Linked DNA regions of Homo sapiens: region 2 is linked to region 1. A link means that fine-mapping ties the variant in region 1 to the expression of a gene that starts in the linked region. Tissue or cell type: whole blood. Region 1 holds a variant in brackets; the other region holds the start of a gene. All regions are shown on one strand. Distances are between the middles of the regions.

Region 1 (10,070 bases):
CAACCCACTGAGAGCTCCTTGCAGCTCAGCCAGTGTCCTGTGCACTGTGCTATCCCCAGAGCCTGGTACAGGTCAGTGTTGGTGATTGCTTCCCGTTATTTTTGTCTTTGTTGTTTTTTTAGAGAGGGTCTCACTGTTGGCCAGGCTGGAGTGCTATGTTGCCCAGGCTGCTCTGAAACTCCTGGGCTCAAGTGATCTGCCTGCCTCAGGCTCCCAAAGTTTTGGGTTTACAGGCATGAGCTACCGTGCCTGGCCAGTGATTGCTTGCTGAACGAAAGATTATAGGGATGCAAGAAGAAGTTGGAAGGCTTCCCAGGGGAGGTGGCCATGACAGTGACCCTCAGGGAACCCACTGGACAAGGCCTGAAGCTCTTTGTCTGCAGGTTTACAGGCGGTATGGCGAGGAGTATGGCAACCTCACCCGCCCAGACATCACCTTCACCTACTTCCAGCCTAAGCCACGGCAGGCCTGGGTGTGGGCCGCTGTGCGTGGGCCCTGCTCGGTGAGCTGTGGGGCAGGTGAGACCTGGGGAAGGCTCATCCACAGCACGGCTTGCCCCTGCAGGGAGGCGGCCTAGCCCTCCCTCTTCCCTCCCAGGGCTGCGCTGGGTAAACTACAGCTGCCTGGACCAGGCCAGGAAGGAGTTGGTGGAGACTGTCCAGTGCCAAGGGAGCCAGCAGCCACCAGCGTGGCCAGAGGCCTGCGTGCTCGAACCCTGCCCTCCCTAGTGAGTGTGGTGCTGTCTGCGCAGCTCCAAGGGGGAGAGAGGGTTCCGCTGGGGCTGCTGGGCTCTGTCCCTGGCCTATGGGGCCCATGTGGCAGGGCCGGGCTGAGCTGCTCCTGTGCAGGCTCTCATTACCCCTGCCCACAGCCCTGCAAGGGGGGCTCTGTGAGTGCCCCCATTCTGCAGGTGAGGACACTGAGGCTTGGGGCAGACATGGTGACAATGTCAGCCCAGTGGGACCCACACCTGCTGCCACCTTGTCTGGGCCACCGAGGCCTCTCTTGAGCTCAGGTACTCATGGTGAGATGGAGGTGATTGCCTACCTGGAGGGTTGTAGGGAGACTTGCGGAGCTCCTGGTGCAAAGCCCCTGGCTGTCACCACACCTGACGGGGCACACTGTTAGGGACGAGGCCATTCCTGCTGGGTGCAGGACAGGGCAGCTGCTCACCAGCCTGTGATTCGGTTGTCCTCAGGCTCAGCCGTCTGGCAGCCTGGGAACACCTGGAGAGGCTAGGCTGGCCGTAGTGCCCATTGCTTGTCCCAGACCGGGGGAGTACATCAGCACCTGCCACCCCATCACCCCAGGCCAGCCTGGGACCTGGCCAGGGTCCCGACGCTCTGTCTCCTTCCTCAGCTGGGCGGTGGGAGACTTCGGCCCATGCAGCGCCTCCTGTGGGGGTGGCCTGCGGGAGCGGCCAGTGCGCTGCGTGGAGGCCCAGGGCAGCCTCCTGAAGACATTGCCCCCAGCCCGGTGCAGAGCAGGGGCCCAGCAGCCAGCTGTGGCGCTGGAAACCTGCAACCCCCAGCCCTGCCCTGCCAGGTGAGCCCAGGGCTAGGTGGGGCTGGGAGAGGGCCTTCCTGGCAGAGCTCGTCCCTGCGCTGAGCCCCCATCCTTCTGAGAATCCCCTCCTCCTGAGGCCTCCGGCGGGGCCTCACCATCCAGGGTGATGGGCAGTGTCACCTGGCGGTTGTAAGTGCTGCTGTCAGAGTTCCTTACTACCCAGGAGAGCCTGGGCCCATTGTTTCCCTCTCTGAGCTTCCGAGCCCCTGCTCTGAAATGGGGATGCCGACCTGCCTGGGGAGGGGGGGCTTCGAGGATGAGGTCAAACTGAACGGAGTGGGAGATGTCACTTTCTCATCACCACCATCTCCCCCGTGCCCACGTGGCTGCATCTCATCCCCTCAGTGTCCAAGTTGACAGTGGCTTATCATCCTGCCCTGCCACTAACGAGCTGAGTGACAGGGCAAGTCCCCTCCTCTGTGGGCTTCAGTTTTGCGACCTGTCCGGTGGGAGGGGATTGGTCTGGATTGTTGGTGGCCCACTCATAGCTCTGGACTCCTTTCCCCGCCTCGTCATCCGTGGCAGACAAAACAGTCACCACTCTTCCCCGCTGAGGCCAGATAGGGCCTCAGAATCCTTCTCACACAGCTCTCCAGGCAGCCACTTTAGCGCAGGGCTGACTCACAGCTGAAACCCATTGGCCACCCTTGAACCTGGTGATCCAATTCCATGTGGCACCTGTTTCTCTGCACCTGCTATGGTGCATGGAGTCAGTGATTACCTGGCTGGAGGTCGGCCTCTGCCTCTGGAGAGTAGGAGGGATGGGTTCTCTTTTTTTTTTTTATTAAAAGACAGAGTCTTGTTCTCTCACCCAGGCTGGTATGCAGTGGCATGATCTTGGCTCACTGCAACCTCCTGCCTCAGCAAGTGTGCGCCACCAAGCCCAACTAATTTTTGTATTTTTTGTAGAAACAGGGTTTTGCCATGTTGCCCAGGCTGGTCTCCAACTCCCGGGCTCAAGCAGTCTGCTCACCTCAGCCTCCTAAAGTGCTGAGCTACCGTGCCTGGCCAGGGATAGGTTCTGTCTCTGCACCCTGGGTGCAGGTGGGGTGCCTGACTGTTGAGCAGCGAGTGCTTGTTGAATGGGAACCTGCTGGCTGATGAATGGGGAACCCGGTGCTTCAGGGAGAGACCCTGAGCTTCACTTCTCTGTGGGGCTCCTCTTTGGGCTCCTGGATGTTGGGGAGCAGGTCCCCTTCCTCCCTGCCCCTAGCAGCTGGGCTATACCTTCCCCTGGGTGGCAGAGGCAGGGCCTGATGACTGTCTCATGCCATCCTCAGGTGGGAGGTGTCAGAGCCCAGCTCATGCACATCAGCTGGTGGAGCAGGCCTGGCCTTGGAGAACGAGACCTGTGTGCCAGGGGCAGATGGCCTGGAGGCTCCAGTGACTGAGGGGCCTGGCTCCGTAGATGAGAAGCTGCCTGCCCCTGAGCCCTGTGTCGGGATGTCATGTCCTCCAGGCTGGGGCCATGTGAGTGCCCTGGGCATGAGGGTGGCTGGGGCTGTTGAGTCCTTTACCTGGCTGGGAGAACGAGGAGCACCCATTGCCACCGTCCTCCAGGCCAGAGCAAGAACACCATCCTTCTGTGGGAATGCTGTCTGAGGGCCACCCCTGCTCAGAAAAGAAGCTTAGAAAGAGGGCTCAGGGCCCCTGGGAAGGCTCCCATTCCCCTTGCAAGCCGGGCTGAGGGAAGCATCTGAGGAGAGTGTAATGCAGCTGCTGTGCAGAGAAATGCTGCCAGGCTCCCGCCTGGCGTCCAGGGGCTGGAGGCTGACTGGCCTTGCTCTCTGGCCTGGGTGCTGGCAACCCTCGCCCCTCATGGCTGGGGGGATTGCAGGGCCAGGCATGCTCCCATGTCCCACTCTTGGTCCCCAGCTCTCGGCCAGGCCCACAGTGAGCACTCATGCTGCTGAGGAGCCTGCAAAGGTGGGGTGTGCAGCAAGGATACCCGCTGCGAGACCGGGGAGCCGATCTCGCCAAGGGAGGAGGGGAGGGAGCCCCTGGTGCACACACGCCACTTCCTGGTCTCTCTGCTGCTGCCTGAGAAGATCGAGACGGGGATCGCTGGGTCCTCAGAGGAGGCCCAGACCCACCAGCTTGTTGCTATTCCCCACAGCTGGATGCCACCTCTGCAGGGGAGAAGGCTCCCTCCCCATGGGGCAGCATCAGGACGGGGGCTCAAGCTGCACACGTGTGGACCCCTGCGGCAGGGTCGTGCTCCGTCTCCTGCGGGCGAGGTGAGGGCCCCCGGGATGCTCCTGGGGACCAGCACTCATGGTAACTCTCCTGTCCACTTGCATCTTGCCTCGTTCTGAAAAGCATTTGAGGTGGATTGCAGAAAATCCAGACTATATGGGAACACGTGGTAATACACAAGGAGACTAAGCATAGTAGCTGACAGCCACTTCAAATGTGGGTGTTGATTGGCTGAAAGGTAGGAAAAGACAATAACGCCCGGCAGTGTGGCACGAGAGCCATTCCTTATGGTCCTAGCAGAGCGGCCGGGGGGTCCCCAATTGATGACCCGAGCAGAGAAACCTTAGCTTTAAGATACACAGCGTTCTTCTATTTTCCCAATCTTGTTTTATTGCAGTATAACACAGATATTATAAAATTTACCATCCAAACTGTTTCTCCCTGTGCAGGTCAGTGGCATAAAAGCACAGTCACATTGTTGTGCGGCCATCACCACCAACCTCTCCAGAACTTTTCCAGTTTCGCAAACTGGAGCTCTGTCCCTGTGAAACACGAACTCCCATTTCCCCCTCCGCAGCCCCTGGCAACCTCCATTCTCCTTTCTGTCTCCAGATTCCACAATTCTAGGGACCTTGTAGAAGTGGAATCATATAGCATTTGCCTTTTTGTTACTAGTTTTCACTCAGCATGATGTCCTCACAGTTCATCCATGTTGTAGCATGTGTGAGTGTTTCCTTCTTAAGGCTGAAAAAGATTCCATTGTGAGTGTATCCTTTACAGGTTTATCCATTTATTCATCAGTGGACACTTGGCTTCCTTCCACACTTTGGCTATTGTGAATAATGCTTCTGTGAACATGGGTGTGCAAATATCTGTTTGAGTTCCTGCTTTCAGTTCTTTTGGGTGTATATCTAGAAGTGTGGTAGCTGGGTAAGATGAGAATTCTATGTTTAATTTTTGTGGAACTGCTGGACTGTTTTCCCCAGTGGCTGCACCATTTTACATTTCCACTAATGGTGCATAAGAGTTCCAATGTCCTCCCATCCTTGCCAACACTTTTTATTTCTATGGTTTTTTTTGTTTTTGTTTTTGTTTTTGAGACAGAGTCTCATTCTGTTGCCGAGGCTGGAGTGCAGTGGCATGATCTTGGCTCATTGTAACCTTCGCCTCCGGGGCTCAAGTGATTCTCGTGCTTCAGCCTCCCGAGTAGCTAGGACTA[T/C]AGGCGTCTGCCACCATGCCTGGCTAATTTTTTGTTTAGTAGAGATGGGGTTTCACCATGTTGGCCAGGCTGGTCCCAAACTCTTGACCTCAGGTGATCTGCCTGCCTTGGCCTCCCAACGTGCTGGGATTACAGGCGTGAGCCCCCACACCTGGCCTATTTCTGTGTTTTTTTTATAATGGCCATCCTAATGGGCTTGAGAAGACACACCATGTTCTTAAACGAAAACCCTGACCACTTGCTCAGTAAAATGTCAGCCTGTTTAAAACCGAGACCAAAAAGAGATTTCTTTTTCTCTCTTTTCTTTTTTGAGACAAAAAAGAAAACCTCTGTCACCAGGTTGGAGTGTAGTGGCACAATCTTAGCTCACTACAACCTCCACCACCTGGGCTGAAGCCATCCTCCCCCCTCAGCCTCCTGAATAGCTACTATACCCTGCTAATTTTTGTAGTTTTGGCAGAGATGGGATCTCCCTATGTTGCCCAGCCTGATCTCCTGAGCTCAAGCGATCCTTCTGCCTCGGCCTCTCAAAGTGCTGGGATTATAGGCATGAGCCACTGTGCCCAACCAAGAGATTTTTTTTCTTTTTCTTTTTTTTCTTTTTTTTGAGACTAAGAGTTTTCCTCTGTCGCCCAGGCTGAAGTGCAGTGGTGTGATCTTGGCTCACTGCAACCTCCGCCTCCCATGTTCAAACGATTCTCATGCCTCAGCCTCCTGAGCAGCTGGGACTCCAGCTATGTGCCACCACACCTGGCTAATTTTTTGTATTTTATTTTATTAGAGAGGGGGTTTCGCCATGATGGCCACGCTGGTCTCAAACTCCTGACCTCAGGTGATCCACCCGCCTTGGCCTCCCAAAGTGCTGGGATTACAGGCATGAGCCACTGAGCCTATTTCTTTTGAGGATATTCCTAAAAGAGAGACTTGAGAAAACTGGCCCTAATAACATCTTTATGATAGACACAATCAGAGATTTTCATATTGTGATTTTTTTTTCTTTTTTTTTTTTTTGAGATGGAGTCTCGCTCTGTCACCCAGGCTGGAGTCCAGTGGCGCAGTCTTGGCTCACTGCAACCTCTGCCTCCTGGGTTCAAGTGATTCTCCGTCTCAGCCTCCTGAGTAGCTGGGATTACAGGTGCGCACCACCACGCTCAGCTAATTTTTGTATTTTTAGTAGAGACGGGGTTTCACCATGTTGGTCAGGCTCGTCTCGAACTCCTGACCTTGTGATCCGCCGCCCAAAGTGCTGTGATTACAGGCGTGAGCCACTGTGCCTGGCCCATATTGCAATTCTTATAATGCCTCTCGGTCAACAATAACAGCTACCATTTGTCAAGTGTCTACTGTGTGCCAGGCACTTGTTATCTTCCCTTTTAAAAATCTTTATAAATGATTCTGCAAGGTAGATGCCATTATCTTTTTTTCTAAATCTAAGATTCAGAGGGTTAAGTCAGTTGTCTGAGGTCACACAGCTGGTAAGTGGCAGAGCCGGGATTGAAACCCATGCGGGCCTTATGTGCTAGAGGTGTCCAGTGAGCCTGGGCTGCAGTCCTTGCTGAGCCTGTCCCTTGGGGCTCTGGGTCTCTGCTTTGTCCACGCAGGTCTGATGGAGCTGCGTTTCCTGTGCATGGACTCTGCCCTCAGGGTGCCTGTCCAGGAAGAGCTGTGTGGCCTGGCAAGCAAGCCTGGGAGCCGGCGGGAGGTCTGCCAGGCTGTCCCGTGCCCTGCTCGGTGAGTGAGGGGAGCAAGACTGTGTGCTGGCCTTCTCCCTGTAAGTGGGAGACCCGAGCCTTGGCTCCATGCCCGGTGACCTGCGGAGGGGGGCAGGTGCTGCTGGCTGTGCACTGTGTGAGGCTGGACCATGGCCGCCCCATCCCCCTGCCTCACTCCAAGTGCAGGCCAGAGCCCCGGCCCAGCCCCTTTGAGGACTGCAACCCAGAGCCCTGCCCTGCCAGGTGGGCCCCTTCCCAAGGAGACAGGGGGTGCTAGGTCTGCATCCTGGCTCTTTCCTCACCTCCAAGCCAGACCTTTTGACCCTCAGTGTCCTCACCAGTGGGAGCAGGTCATTTTGTGCCCCCAGAAGACTGGGGGAGTTTAATGAAAGGATTAGATGCATGTAAAGTACATGCTAAATGCAATGAGTGTAAAATGCATGCTCGATGCAACGCGTGTAAAGTACATTGCACAGGATCTGGGATGCTGTGGGTGCACATGGTTGCTGGTGCGTTTCTTCATCGCCTGCTCTTTATGGAGCACCTAGGCCCCGGGGCCGTCCTGGAGCTAGGGGACACAGCAGAGAACAAGGCAGACAAATGTCCCTGACCTCCTGGAGCAAATGCAGGGGGAAAGGGGGACAGATAATAATAGGACAGGCGGGGAATGCAGTTTGATGGATGGTGTTCAGTGCGATGCAGCCAAACACAGCGGGAGGGGAGGAGGGGAGGGCTGGCGGGGTGGGCTCCAGGGCGGTGGTGCTGGGATCACTGTTGAAGACAGACATGCAGGGCCCTTGGGTGCCCGGACCCCTGCCCCCACTGTCTCTGGGATACGACATCTGTCGTTTGCCCTCACCTTTCTCTTCTGTAAAATGGGTTTGTCCAAATGTTCTGTCCACTCTGCCAAGCCTCTTGGTGAGGACACAAGGGGGCCTCCAGAAAGAGAACCTCTCCGGGCCCTTCCCAGCTTCCTGTCTCTTCCTAGTCTGGGGAAATGAAGGGGAGACCTGGCTCCCCTGGGTTCCCAGGCCCTGGGGCTGTTTGGGGTCCCTGACTCCAGTTTGCTCCAGGTGGCAGTACAAGCTGGCGGCCTGCAGCGTGAGCTGTGGGAGAGGGGTCGTGCGGAGGATCCTGTATTGTGCCCGGGCCCATGGGGAGGACGATGGTGAGGAGATCCTGTTGGACACCCAGTGCCAGGGGCTGCCTCGCCCGGAACCCCAGGAGGCCTGCAGCCTGGAGCCCTGCCCACCTAGGTGAGTCAGCCGGTGATGGGAGGGGCAGCTCCTGGTGTGTGCAGATGCCAGGCCAGGCGCTGTGGTGTGTGCCTGTAATCGCAGCTACTTGGAAAGCTGAATCAGGAGAACCACTTGAGTCCAGGAGTGCAAGTCCAACCTGGGCAACACAGTGAGACCTCATCTCTAAAAAAAAAACAAGACGGGGCCAGGTGTGGTGGCTCACGCCTGTAATCCCAGCGCTATGGAAGGCTGAAGCGGGTGGATTACCTGAGGTCAGGAGCTTGAGACCAGCCTGGCCAACATGGTGAAACCCCATCTTTACTAAAAATACAACAATTAGGCTGGGCGCGGTGGCTCACTCCTGTAATCCCAGCACTTTGGGAGGCTGAGGCGGGCAGATCACCTGAGGTTGGGAGTTCGAGACCAGCCTGTCCAACATACAGAAACCCTGTCTCTACTAAAAATACAAAATTAGCCGGGTGTGGTGGTACATGCCTGTAATCCCAGTTACTTGGGAGGCTGAGGCAGAATCGCTTGAACCGGGGAGGCCAAGGTTGTGGTGAGCCAAGATTACGCCACTGGACTCCAGCCTGGCTAACAGCAGCAAAACTCCATCTCAAAAAAAAAAAAAAAAAAAGAAAACCCACAAAAATTAGCCTGGCGTGGTGGTGTGCACCTGTCATCCCAGCTACTTCAGAGGCGGAGGCAGGAGAATCGCTTGAACCCGGGAGGCGGAGGTTGCAGTGAGCCGAGATGGCGCCGCTGGCACTCCAGCCTGGGCTACAGAGCGAGACTCCGTCTCAAAAACAAAACAACAAAACAAAACAAGACGGGGTGGGGGGCTCAGTGGCCCAAGAGCCAGTCTGTAAGGAATAGGGCTACCTGGCAGGCTGTGCTAGTTGTGGGAGGTGAAGTTTAAGCACCATGCAGGCAGGGTGCAGTGTGGGGAGGCCTGGGGGACAGAGGAGGCAGCATTTGAGCAGAACCTAAAGCTGTGAGCACCAGCATTCTGATGTGGAAGACGGGAGGGATGGAGGTCTCCACAGGGACACACACAGCCACACTAGGACACGGGACAGAATCATGTTCAAGTCCGTGGGGTCCGGAGCCCAGTGGTAAAGGGCGAACATTTGCCTACCTCATTTACAATTCTTTAATGGTTTCTTTTTGTAGGTTTGCATTTTTAGTAAAGAAATACTTTTCTATATCATACAGAAACGTCCAGAAAAGAATGTAACAGACATGTATGTTCCAGCACTCCAGTTTAATAGATAGCATCCTACTGCCATGTTTCCTTCCTGTCCACTTACTTTTATTTATTTAATTTATTTATTTTGAGACGGAGTCTCGCTTTGTTGCCCAGGCAGTGATGCAATCTTGGCTCACTGCAACCTCCGCCTCCCGGGTTCAAGCCATTCTCCTGTCTCAGCCTCCCAAGTAGCTGGGAATACAGGCACCCACAACCACACCCAGCTAACTTTTGTATTTTTAGTAGAGACAGGGTTTCACCATATTGGTCAGGCCGATCTTGAACTCCTGACCTCAGGAGATCTGCCTACCTCAGCATTCCAAAGTGCTGGGATTACAGATGTGAGCCATCACACCTGGCCAGCCTCCTTAGTTTTAAATAAATCCAGTTACAGATAAGATTTCACTTAAATTTAGGCTGGTCATGGCTCACGCCTGTAATCTCAGCACTTCAGGAGGCTGAGATGGGTGGATCATTTGAGCCCAGGAGTTTGAGACCAGCCTGGACAACATGCCAAAACCTTGTCTCTACTATAAATACAAAAATTAGCCGGGCATGGTGGTGCATGCCAGTATCCCCAGCTACTCGGGAGGCTGAGGCAGGAGAATCACCTGAACCTTGGGAAGTCAAGGCTGCAGTGAGCAGAGATCACACCACCACTGCATGCCAGCCTGGGCAACAGCATGAGACCCTGTCTCAAAAAAAAAAAAAAAAAAAAAAGATTTTACTTAAATTTAAACCCTGTACTAATCTGTGATTTATTTGGAGTATGTTGCAAAGTAGGGACCAAAGGATTTTTTTTTTTTTCTAAATTGTTAACTAGCATCTGTTGGACAAGCCCTGATGCCTCCAGGTGGCTCCTTGGTGGTATTGGTGTGTGTTAGAATCT
Region 2 (10,070 bases), 31 kb after region 1:
GAAGAGCATGGTGGCCAGCAGGGGCACCAGGGTGAGGTAGCCAGCGGGTGCTGCCAGGGGCTGCGCCAAGTCCCCCCAGGACTCGCTTTCCAGGCCCGCAGTGCTGTTGGGGCTCAGAGGCCTGGGGCCAAAGTGGATGTACAGCCCCAGAGTCAGGTTGGCAGCAAACATGATGGCCGCTGTGGACAGACAGGTGGCCTCGTGGGGCCAGGACCCTCTGAGCCAGCTGTTTCTCTCAGAGCTCCTTCTGCAGAGCCCCTTGATACTTGCGTGGTCCAGCTCGTGTCTGGGACTAGAGACCCCCAGCAGGGCAGCAAGCTCTGTCTCCAGCCGCGTGTTAGGCTCCCACCGTGGAGTGTCACAGCCAGTGTGTCCACTCGGAGCCCCAGCGGACCTTTCTGGACCACTGGCCTGGGCCAGGGCCCTGCCGATGCTAGGGAGGCAGGTGCTCTGCAGTTCCCAGCCACACAGCCCCACCCCGAGGCAGGCCTGCACACCCAGCCCAGCCCTGACCCATGCGGAGGAGTGGGGCAGGAGGGCTGCCTGCAGGGTGCTTACCTGAGACGAAGAGCAGCACCTTGCGGCCTGCGAGGTCCATGGTGAGGGCGGCGATCAGCACGGACAGGAGCCGCACGGCCCCAACGATGGCTGCGTCGTCCTTGGGGGGCTATCGGGGGGAGACCACCAGGGCTGAGGGACCTGCCTGCTGTTCCCATCCCCCTCCAGGACCCAGCTTGTCCCGGCAGGCATTGCAGGGGCTCAGGCCAGCAGCTCAGTGCAGTACTGAGTGGCCTGGCACCTGCAGCGTGCTGGGCATCTATACTGTCCGAGCCTATGGGGCTCCTGGGCAGGGACACATCTGCTCTGCCCACCACTATGCCCAGCTGGCACAGAATCCAGGCGTGATGATGACTTGCTGAACCGTGCTGTTACTAATCTTCAAATCTCATCTCACTTTGAGCCTTGGGGCAGGCTGATGGAGATGTGCTGCTATCTTCATCTTGCAGAGGAGGAAGTTGAGGTTCAGAGGGGAAAGTGACTTCCCTCATTAAGTGGCAGATGCCACAGGGCTCTGAACCTGGGGTCTGTGGCCTCAAGGGGTCCACGTTTCTATAAAGCTGGTTTCCTTTGTAATCCCATGTATTTTATTTAATTTTTAAAATTTCTATATGTTTTTAGAGACAGGGTCCTGCTCTGTCACCAGGATGGAGTGCAGTGGTGAGATCGTGGCCACTGCAGTCTCACACTCCTGGGCTTAAGTGATCCTCCCGCCTTGGCCTCGTGTTGGGATTTTGCCAGTATTTTATTTTAAAACACTTAAGCTTATCTTAAAAACATTCTGAGAACAGGTGAAGGCACTGGAACTGTCTCCACAAGGCCCAGATCTCAGATCTTGCTGTGGCATCCCTGACACCTGGCACAGAGCAGGTGTGGGTAAGACCAGGGGTTGGGTAAGTGCAGGAGCAGGCCCTGCCTCCCCTGCCCTGCCAGCCTCCAGGGGACCCCGTGGGTGGGCGCCGGCCGGGGCTGGGCTCTCACCAGCAGGACAGCGGTGCTGTCGAAGATGGACTGCAGGTAGACCAGGATGGGCGTGATGCCCGTCAGCTGCTGCAGGAGGCGCATCAGCAAGGCCACGGTGATGGGCCGGCACACGTGTGGGGCCCGTGCCTCAGCCCACGATACTCGGCTGCTCTGAAACACAAGGCCGCCGCTGAGGGCGTTGGGCCAGCCTCTCCAGCAGGCGCCATCCTGCCCTGGACCGCCAGGGGTTGTGTGGGAGACCTCCTTTTTCCCTCCTCCAGGAAAGAACCAGCTTACCAGGCCACCCAGGCTCTGGGAACAGCCCCCCACCCCAACCCAGGCACTTGGATTAGTGGGAACTACTGTGGTCCTGTCTTCCAGGAAAAGCCTCCACGGCCACACACAGCTGAAGTGCTGGAGGTGGGCCTGCCCGGTTCGGGCGCACACCCTCCTGCACCTGTCTCCGGACGTTGTCCTGGATCTGCTCGAACTCCCAGTGGACATCGACGTCCGTCCCACGCAGCCAGGCCAGCGCCCGCAGGGCCTCTTCGTCCCTGCCCCGAGAGAGCAGGAAGCGCGGCGAGTTGGGCATGAAGCTGAGCAGCAGGATCATGATGAGCACAGGCGCCTCCCCGGCCACAGCCAGCCAGCGCCACGGCAGCAGGAGGCCTGGGGGCGAGGGGTGGGTGAGGGGCCAGGTCCAGGCCTGGTACAGCCCCTTCCCTCTGGAGCCTCTGAATAACCTCATCTGCCCTTCAAGGTCTAGTCCAAGGGCCATCTCCTACAGGAAGCCTACCCTGATTGCCCCAGGCAGGGTGGGGCTGCAGGGATTGCTCAGCCCCTGGCACATAGTGGGAAGTCCTTGGAAAGTCTTAGGGCCAGGGCAGGATGAGGAAGGGGTAGGTTGGGCAGGCAAGGCCCTAGGCCTCCACCCAAGACCTCCACGCCCCCTCAACTGAGCAGCTGCACGCACTGTGATTTCTTTTCTATCTGGACTTCCCATCTGAGATGGCATTTGATGGAAGCTTTCTGCCGTTAAAAGATAGTCTGGCGACTGTGGGTCCAGGAGAAGCCCTGGCTGCCCCAGCTAGAGACTGGGCCTGTGGCTAGAGGGGCAGGCCCTGCCTGGAGGTGCCCAGCAAGGTGCTGACTGAGTGGGGCCGGGATGCCAGATCTCTTGCCTCTCAGCCCAGGATCTGTTCTGGGACAAATCATTCCCTTTCCACCCACGTCTACCTTGGCGGCACCCACCCCTCCCACCAGCCTGCACACAGGAGTGCGGGGCCATACTTGCCAAGGGCGTAGAGGGACAGGGATCCGAACACTGCCATGAGCTGGGGTGTGGCCCCCAGAGCCCCACGAACGCCTGGGGGAGCAATCTCAGACACGTACACCTGCAAGACACAGCCGCCGCACCAGGTTTTGCTGAAAATACTGGTTCCTAGGCCCGGCCGAGATGGGAGAGTCAGCCCCTGTGAACCCCGGAAAGTGGGAAGTGGAGGCTTTCTGGTGGGGCTGAGTCCTGGTCATGACTCACTGCAAGACCTTGGGCGGCCTGCCTGATCTCTCTCTGTCCTCAGTTTCCCTAACTGTGACGTGGGTGGAAGTACGCAGCTCGGAAATGGGCAGCATGACGCTGGGAAGGAGGCCCGAGGGCTCCCAGGCTTCAGGGCTGAGCAGGTGAGTCCATGCCTCCCAGTGAGTTTTGTCTCCTCTGCTGGGCTCACCACCAGGCCCCGTGTGGAGTACCACATAAGATAAGAAGGTCCCGGGGAGGGTGTAGGGCAGGGACTTCCCTCTCCTACCCATTGCTCAATGCGGATTTTCTCCAATTGAGTAATACATCTGACCGGTCAAGAAACGGGGTAGAAGGCTTGGAAAGTCCAGAGTGGGGGCAGCTGGGGACCTGGAGACAATTTCCCCCAAATTAGCTGCCCTGCTGGGGGTGAGCTGAGGCGCCCTGGGCATCCGCAGGGAAGGCAAACAATTCTCATTGCCCAGAAGGCATGGAGGCTGGGAGGCCTTAGTCAGATGGAGGCTCAGCACCAATACAGAGGCATTGGGGCGCCTGGGTGGGAAGGCCTGGCCTTACCGGGATGCAGGCAGCTGTGAGCCCCCCGGCGAAGCCCGTCAGCGTCCTTCCGAGCAGCAGCATCCAGAGGCCGTGCGCACCCGCCATGAGCGCATAGCCGGCCGCCGACGGCACAGCTGAGAACATGATGCTCAGCTTCCGGCCCAGGAGGTCGTTGAGGATCATGGCACTCAGGCCTCCGGCCGCTGCTCCCAGGGTGAACACGGACTGCAGGGGAAGGGGGTGCAGGGCAGATATGTCTGGGCACTTGGCACCCCAATCTCATCAGAGTCCAGGGACAGCTTCTTCCCTAGGCCGACCCCAGGAGCTGGTCAAGCACTTGGCCAAGTCAAGCACTTGAAACAGGGAGCCTCCTGTCTTCAAGGAACAGCCATTTGTTAGGGATGCCCAAACGGGGAATTCTGCTCTAAGGAAGAGGTGCTGCGCCACATATCCACAGTGGTTCTGTCCAGCCTGATGTTTAAATGTCTAATATTTTAATACAGGAGAATTCTGTGACTTGAAGGTACTGGGCTTTAAGATTTGGAGGTTCTTAAGTTCCCTGTACAGCAGCAACTGGGACCCCCTCTGGACTCTGCTAACTGGTAGTGGGACCTGGGCACATTGCCCAGCCTGTCTGCACCTCAGTTTCTTCAGCTGTCTTATGGGGAGAGCGCAAGTTCTACCTCGTGGCGTTGGCCCTGAGAATCAATGAACGTTCAGTGCCCAACACATGCCTGGCACATAGGAAGTGCTCAGTAAACCTTGGGAATTTTTATCTTAACTACTATGTTAACAACTCTACATATGAGGCTATTAAGATTATAATTTTAGACTCTGGGACTCTGGGATCTTCCTCTCCATCAGCCCACAATCTGTCCTGCGGACTCTCCTTGCCCCAGCCAGTGCCTCTCCCCACTGACACCTGATACCCTTGCCCCCATCCAGCCAACTGTGGGTGTGGGGACCCGGGGAAGCCTCAGCCCCACCTAGTATAGACCCTGACAGCCACCTCCCCACCTGCTCCTTCCCTCACCCTCTCCACTGGCTTTCAGTTCCTCATTTCAGAGGAATCCTGTAGCTTTACCCCACCCACTAGTGGCCTGGATGGCTGGGGGAGGGGGGACCAGGGCCCTGGAGGGACCCCCAAGGTGGAGAATTTGGGAGGTTCCTAGCTGGAGATAAGGCTCAGCAGGTCCCTCCTTCCTGCACCCACCCTCCTCCAGAGGATGGTCCTTACCCCAAACCAGGATGCCTGGGATTTGGTCAGATGCAGGTCAGGATCCAAGGAGCGCTCCAGGGCTGGGATGACAGGGGATGTGTAGACCAGGGCATACCCAAAGCTGAAATTGCCGAGCACTGCGGCGAAGGTGGCCAGGAACACCCTTTTGTTCTGCAGGGTCCTGGTGATGGTGGCGGACAAAAAGACCAGGGTCTCTGAGTCCCTCCTCCAGGGACCATTGCCTTTTCTGAACCCAGTGGCTGCCCGGCTCAGCGGGCAGTGCTAGGGAGGCCTGGGTCCAAGGCCATTCACGTTCCCAGGGCCTGAGCCCCAGCTCCCCTGGGAAATTCCCAGGCCATTGTTAGCTCATCCGCAGTGGCTGAGCCTCTGGTGCTGGGGCCTTTTCTCCGGAAGAGGAGGCTCTGGTTCTGCCCCCAGGGCGGCGGCTGGAGGCTTGCTGTGTGACCTCAGGCAGAACCCCTGCTCGCTGGGGCCTCAGTCTCACTGTCTGTGGCAGTGGGGGGCTGGGCCCGGTACTCTCGTGGATCGTTCCTTCCCTTAGGGGGACCAGTTCCTTAAATAGGAGTAGCGTGTCTGGGACAGGAGGGAGCCAGATGGCCCCTCGGTGGCGACTAGGTCAGGGGAGGCCCAGGGCGGGAGCCTGCCGCCGGCTGGAGGGAACCAGGGCCACCCCCAGGCCCCACCCGCAGCCCCCAACCTAGCGACTCTCACCCGACCCGCGCCCTGTCCCCTGGCGACGGGGGCGGCTTCTCGGGGAAGGTGTCGTAGTCCGGGCCCTCGGCTCCCAGCAGCGGCTCCTGCATGGCCGGGTCTCTCTCGGGGCGAGCGGAGGGCGCTCAGACTGGAGCAGCCGCCCGGGGCCAGCAGCTCCGAGGGCACCGGCCAGGCTCCGCCCCTTGGCCGCTATTGGCTGTGGGACGGCCCTGCAGAGACACGCCGGCCAATGGGGCGGCCGCAGGCTGTCCTGATGCTCGGATGCGGACCCGGCTTCCCCGGGCGCGGCCGGCACCGCGTGCGCCCCCGAAGGTCACGCCCCAAGACAGGATGGGGGTCCCAGGGCGGAGCCCCTGCTGGATCGTCCGGGGCCCCCGCGGAGCGCCGGAAGCGGCTCACCCGGCCCGGCTCTTGCAGGCGTGACTGCGGCAATGCGCGCAGCCCCTGTCGTACTCGCTCCCGCGGGGTGGAAACCGAGGCCCAGAGAGGCGAAGCCGAGCGCCAGGGTCACAGCGAATGCGCACCTCGCTCCTCCTTACGCTCTAGCCCTCCCCGTCGCGTGGCGTCTCAGGGCCACCTCTGCCCTGGCTCTCCCTGGCACCAGGGAATCGGGGTGTGTCAGGGCAGCAGCGGATGTGCGGGACGAAGGAGGCAGGAGGGGCCGGCGAGGCGCTGTGGGCAGCTCCAGTGGGCGAGGTCTGTATCCTCCACCCCAGGCTCTGGTGGTAGAAATAACCTGAGCTCGTGACACGTAACCCAGGTAGTAAGATAACATTGAAAAATAAGAAAAGCAGAAATGGAAAATTCCCGGGAAGACCGTCCTCAAAAAATCCCACAGCAGTTCCACCTCTCCCTTTGGGCCTTTTCGGGAAGAGGACGGAATCACGCCCTGCTCTGTTGGATGGACGTGCCACACACGCTTTTAAACGGAGCCTTTGTTGCTGAGTATTTGGGTCATTTCCCATTTTAGCTATTAACATGGTAAAGCATTTTTAAAAGTTAGAATTCCCTTTTATTATGATTGAAATACAACCATAATAGAACAATAAAATCACATCCATCTCCCGTCAGCCTGACCTTGATGGCGTTTTAGCCTCTTCCAGTCTTTTCCTCATGTGCCTATTTTGCATATTTGCTATTGGGGCCCCCATTAAACTGTGCAGCCCCTTTACGTCACCGTTTTCTTGCCATCAAGATCATAGGCTTTGGACTCAGGCACACCCTGGTATGGTGATCAGGCTGCACAGTCCTCGTGGCCATATATATACGTATATACATATATATGTGTATGTATTTTTACATATCTATATGTGTATTTTTTTTTTTTTTTTTGAGACGGAGTCTCGCTCTGTTGGCCAGGCTGGAGTGCAGTGGCACGATCTCAGCTTACTGCAACTTCCACCTCCCGAGTTCAAGCGATTCTCCTGCCTCAGCCTCCCAAGTAGCTGGGATTACAGGCATGTGCCACCACGCCCGGCTAATTTTTGTATTTTTAGTGGAGACGGGGTTTCACCATGTTGGCCAGCTTGGTCTTGAACTCCTGACCTTGTGATCCTTCCGCTTCAGCCTCACAAAGTGCTGGGATTACAGGCGTGAGTCACCGCACCCGGCCTTCTCTTTTTTTAAAATGTATTTTTTTTCTTTTAAAATCAACTTTAGGCCAGGTGCAGTGGTGTGTGCCTGTAATCCCAGCATTTAGGAGGCCAAGGTAGGAGAATTGCTTGATGCCAGGAGTCTGACACCAGCCTGGGCAACAAAGTGACCCTGTCTCTACAAAAAGCTAAAAAAGTTGTCCAGGTGTGATGGCAAGTGCCTGTGGCCCCAGCTACTCGGAAGGCAGAGGTGGGAAGATTGCTTGAGCCCAGGAGTTTGAGGCTGCGGTGAGCTGTGATCACACCACAGCACTCCAGCCTGGGTGACAGAGGGAGAGCCTTCTTGAAAAAATAAAATACAAGAAAAATCAACTTTGTTAAGCTATAATTTATATACAGTAAAATGAATCCATTTTAAATATAGGTTGATGAGTTTTGACAATTGTATAACCCCAAACACCCCCAATCAAGATATAAAACATTTCCACCTTTTCTTTCTTTCTTTTATCTTTTTTTGAGACAGAGTCTCTCTCTGTTGCCCAGGCTGGAGTGCAGTAGTGCGATCTCGGCTCACTGCAACCTCCGACCACTGGGTTCAAGCGATTCTCCTGCCTCAGCCTCCCGAGTAGCTGGGATTACAGGCGCCCGCCACCACACCTGGGTAGTTTTTGCATTTTTGGTAGAGATGGGGTTTCACCATGTTGGCCAGGCTGGTCTCAAACTCCCAACATCAGGTGATCCTCCCGCCTTGGCCTCCCAAAGTGCTGGGATTACAGGCGTGAGTCATCACGCCCAGCCCATTTCCACCCTTCTAGAAGGTTTCTTTGTGCCTTTCTGAGGTCAACCTCCTTTCCCTGCTCCCCAGTAAACTATTTTTTTTTTTGAGAGGGAGTTTCACTCTGTCCCCCAGGCTGGAGTGCAGTGGTGCGATCTCGGCTCACTGCAAGCTCCGCCTCCCAGGTTCATGCCATTCTCCTGCCTCAGCCTCCTGAGTAGCTGGGACCACAGGTGCCCGCCACCATGCCCGGCTAATATTTTTTTGTATTTTTAGTAGAGATGGGGTTTCACCATGTTAGCCAGGATGGTCTTGATCTCCTGACCTCGTGATCTGCCGGCCTCGGCCTCCCAAAGGGCTGGGATTACAGGCATGAGCCACCGCGCCCGGCCTCCCCAGTAAACTATTAATCTGCTTCCTGTGACGATAGATTACAGTGGTCTTATAAAGAGAACCTATGTGAAGCACTGTTTTTTTGTCTGCCTTCTTTTTTCAGCATGTTTATGAAATTTATCAGTGGTTTGCTGATGTTCAGTGGTTTGTTCTTATTTGCAGCCGCGTAGTGTAGTGTTTTACGGATGTAGCACAGTTTTTGGCTAAAAGAATGAGCCGGTGTGAGCCTTCTTGCACAGAACCCTGCTTAACAGCCTTTTTTTTTTTTTTTTGAGATGAGTCTCGCCCTTTCCCCCAGGCTGGAGTGCAGTGGTGCCATCTCAGCTTACTGCAAGCTCCACCTCCTGGGTTCACGCCATTCTCCTGCCTCAGCCTCCTGAGTAGCTGGGACTACAGGCGCCTGCCACCACGCCCAGCTAATTTTTTGTATTTTTAGTAGAGACGGGGTTTCACCGTGTTAGCCAGGGTGGTCTCCATCTCCTGACCTCGTGATCCGCCCGCCTCGGCCTCCCAAAGTGCTGGGATTACAGGCATGAGCCACTGCACCCGGCCCTGTTTCACAGCCTTTTAATGTTAAAGGCTGGGTGGATGAGCTTGAATTTGTAATGAATCTTCTGTCATGGGCATCAAAGCTGTTTCAAACTGTAAGGGTAGAAAAGGTGGAATCCGTTTCCTCACCCATTGTTACAAGACCAGCAGATCCACATGCCTGCTCCACCGTGACACCACGACACACCAGTACACCGTGCAGCAGGGTTCGCAGCAGGGAAGAGTTTAATGATTGCAGGGCTCTGAGCAAGGAGATGGGAGGAGATCCTCAAATCCATCTCCCCTAGGAGCTTTGGGCTGGGGCTTTTAAGGGGATCATGGAGGGCGATGGGCTTTAGAAGTGGGTTGTTGATAGGTCTGGGGATGGGAGGTAAAATCATCAGGAGGTGGAAAATGTATTCTTTGGTGAATCAGGTCCTCCTGGGGTCCTTGAGACCAGCTGTCATCAGTAGTTTCTTTCTTTTTTTTTTTTTGAGACAGAGTCTCACTCTGTCACCCAGGCTGGAGTGCAGTGGTATGGTCTCCACTCACTGCAACCTTCACCTTCTGGGTTCAAGCGATTCTCCCACCTCAGCCTCCAGAGTAGCTGGGAGTACAGATGCATGTCACCACACCTGGCTGATTTTTGTATTTTTAGTAGAGATGGGTTTTCACTATGTTGGCCAGGCTGGTCTCGAACTTCTGACCTCGTGATCTGCATGCCTCAGCCTCCCAAAGTGCTGGGATTACAGGCGTGAGCCACCGCGCCCGGCCGGTGTCAGTAGTTTCATTGGTACACAGGACCCAAAAGAACATCTCAAATGGAAACTTTTGACTGGGCGCCTGGCCAACATGGTGAAACCCTGCCTCTACTAAAAATACAAAGAATTAGCCAGGCATGGTGGCGTGAGCCTGTAATCCCAGCTGCTTGGGAGGCTGAGGCGAGAGAATCACATGAATCTAGGAGTGGAGGTTGCAGTGAGCCGAGATCGTGCGGTTGCACTTCAGCCTGGGCAATCAGAGCAAAACTCTGTCTCAAAAAAAAAAAAGGAAAAGGACATCTTTGCAATGTTAAAGTTGTTATCTATATCTACAGGGCAGTGAGGGAGAGCTACAATCTTGTAACAGAGTCTCTGTGATTCTAAGGCAACAGGCACCAAAAAACTTTGAGGTCAGAGAGCAAGTTGACCTAGCGATGGATGCTGAATGTGCTACAAGCCTGGTTTATTCTCA

Evidence for each region. PIP is the estimated chance that this variant, and not a neighbour inherited with it, causes the effect. A credible set is the group of variants that fine-mapping cannot tell apart.
Region 2: it holds the start of SLC2A6, and the variant in region 1 is the best candidate, but not a certain one, in a credible set for the expression of SLC2A6 in whole blood (TOPMed, PIP 0.84).

The regions. Positions count from the first base shown.
Region 1 is chr9:133,442,016-133,452,085 of GRCh38, forward strand. ADAMTS13 (ADAM metallopeptidase with thrombospondin type 1 motif 13) reads left to right here. Exons shown (of 29, transcript NM_139027.6): 17 at 384-519; 18 at 599-728; 19 at 1,361-1,546; 20 at 2,848-3,037; 21 at 3,684-3,804; 22 at 6,584-6,713; 23 at 7,768-7,950. Among named protein-coding and RNA genes, the nearest start is that of CACFD1, 13 kb to the right of the region's middle. The variant T/C (reference allele first, on the strand shown) is at 4,983.
Region 2 is chr9:133,473,422-133,483,491 of GRCh38, forward strand. SLC2A6 (solute carrier family 2 member 6) reads right to left here and starts at 5,678. Exons shown (of 10, transcript NM_017585.4): 1 at 5,547-5,678; 2 at 4,833-4,995; 3 at 3,614-3,820; 4 at 2,816-2,915; 5 at 1,979-2,190; 6 at 1,540-1,692; 7 at 559-667; 8 at 1-179. The coding sequence starts at 5,638. RefSeq lists enhancers at 5,208-5,267, 5,688-6,189 and a silencer at 5,428-6,077.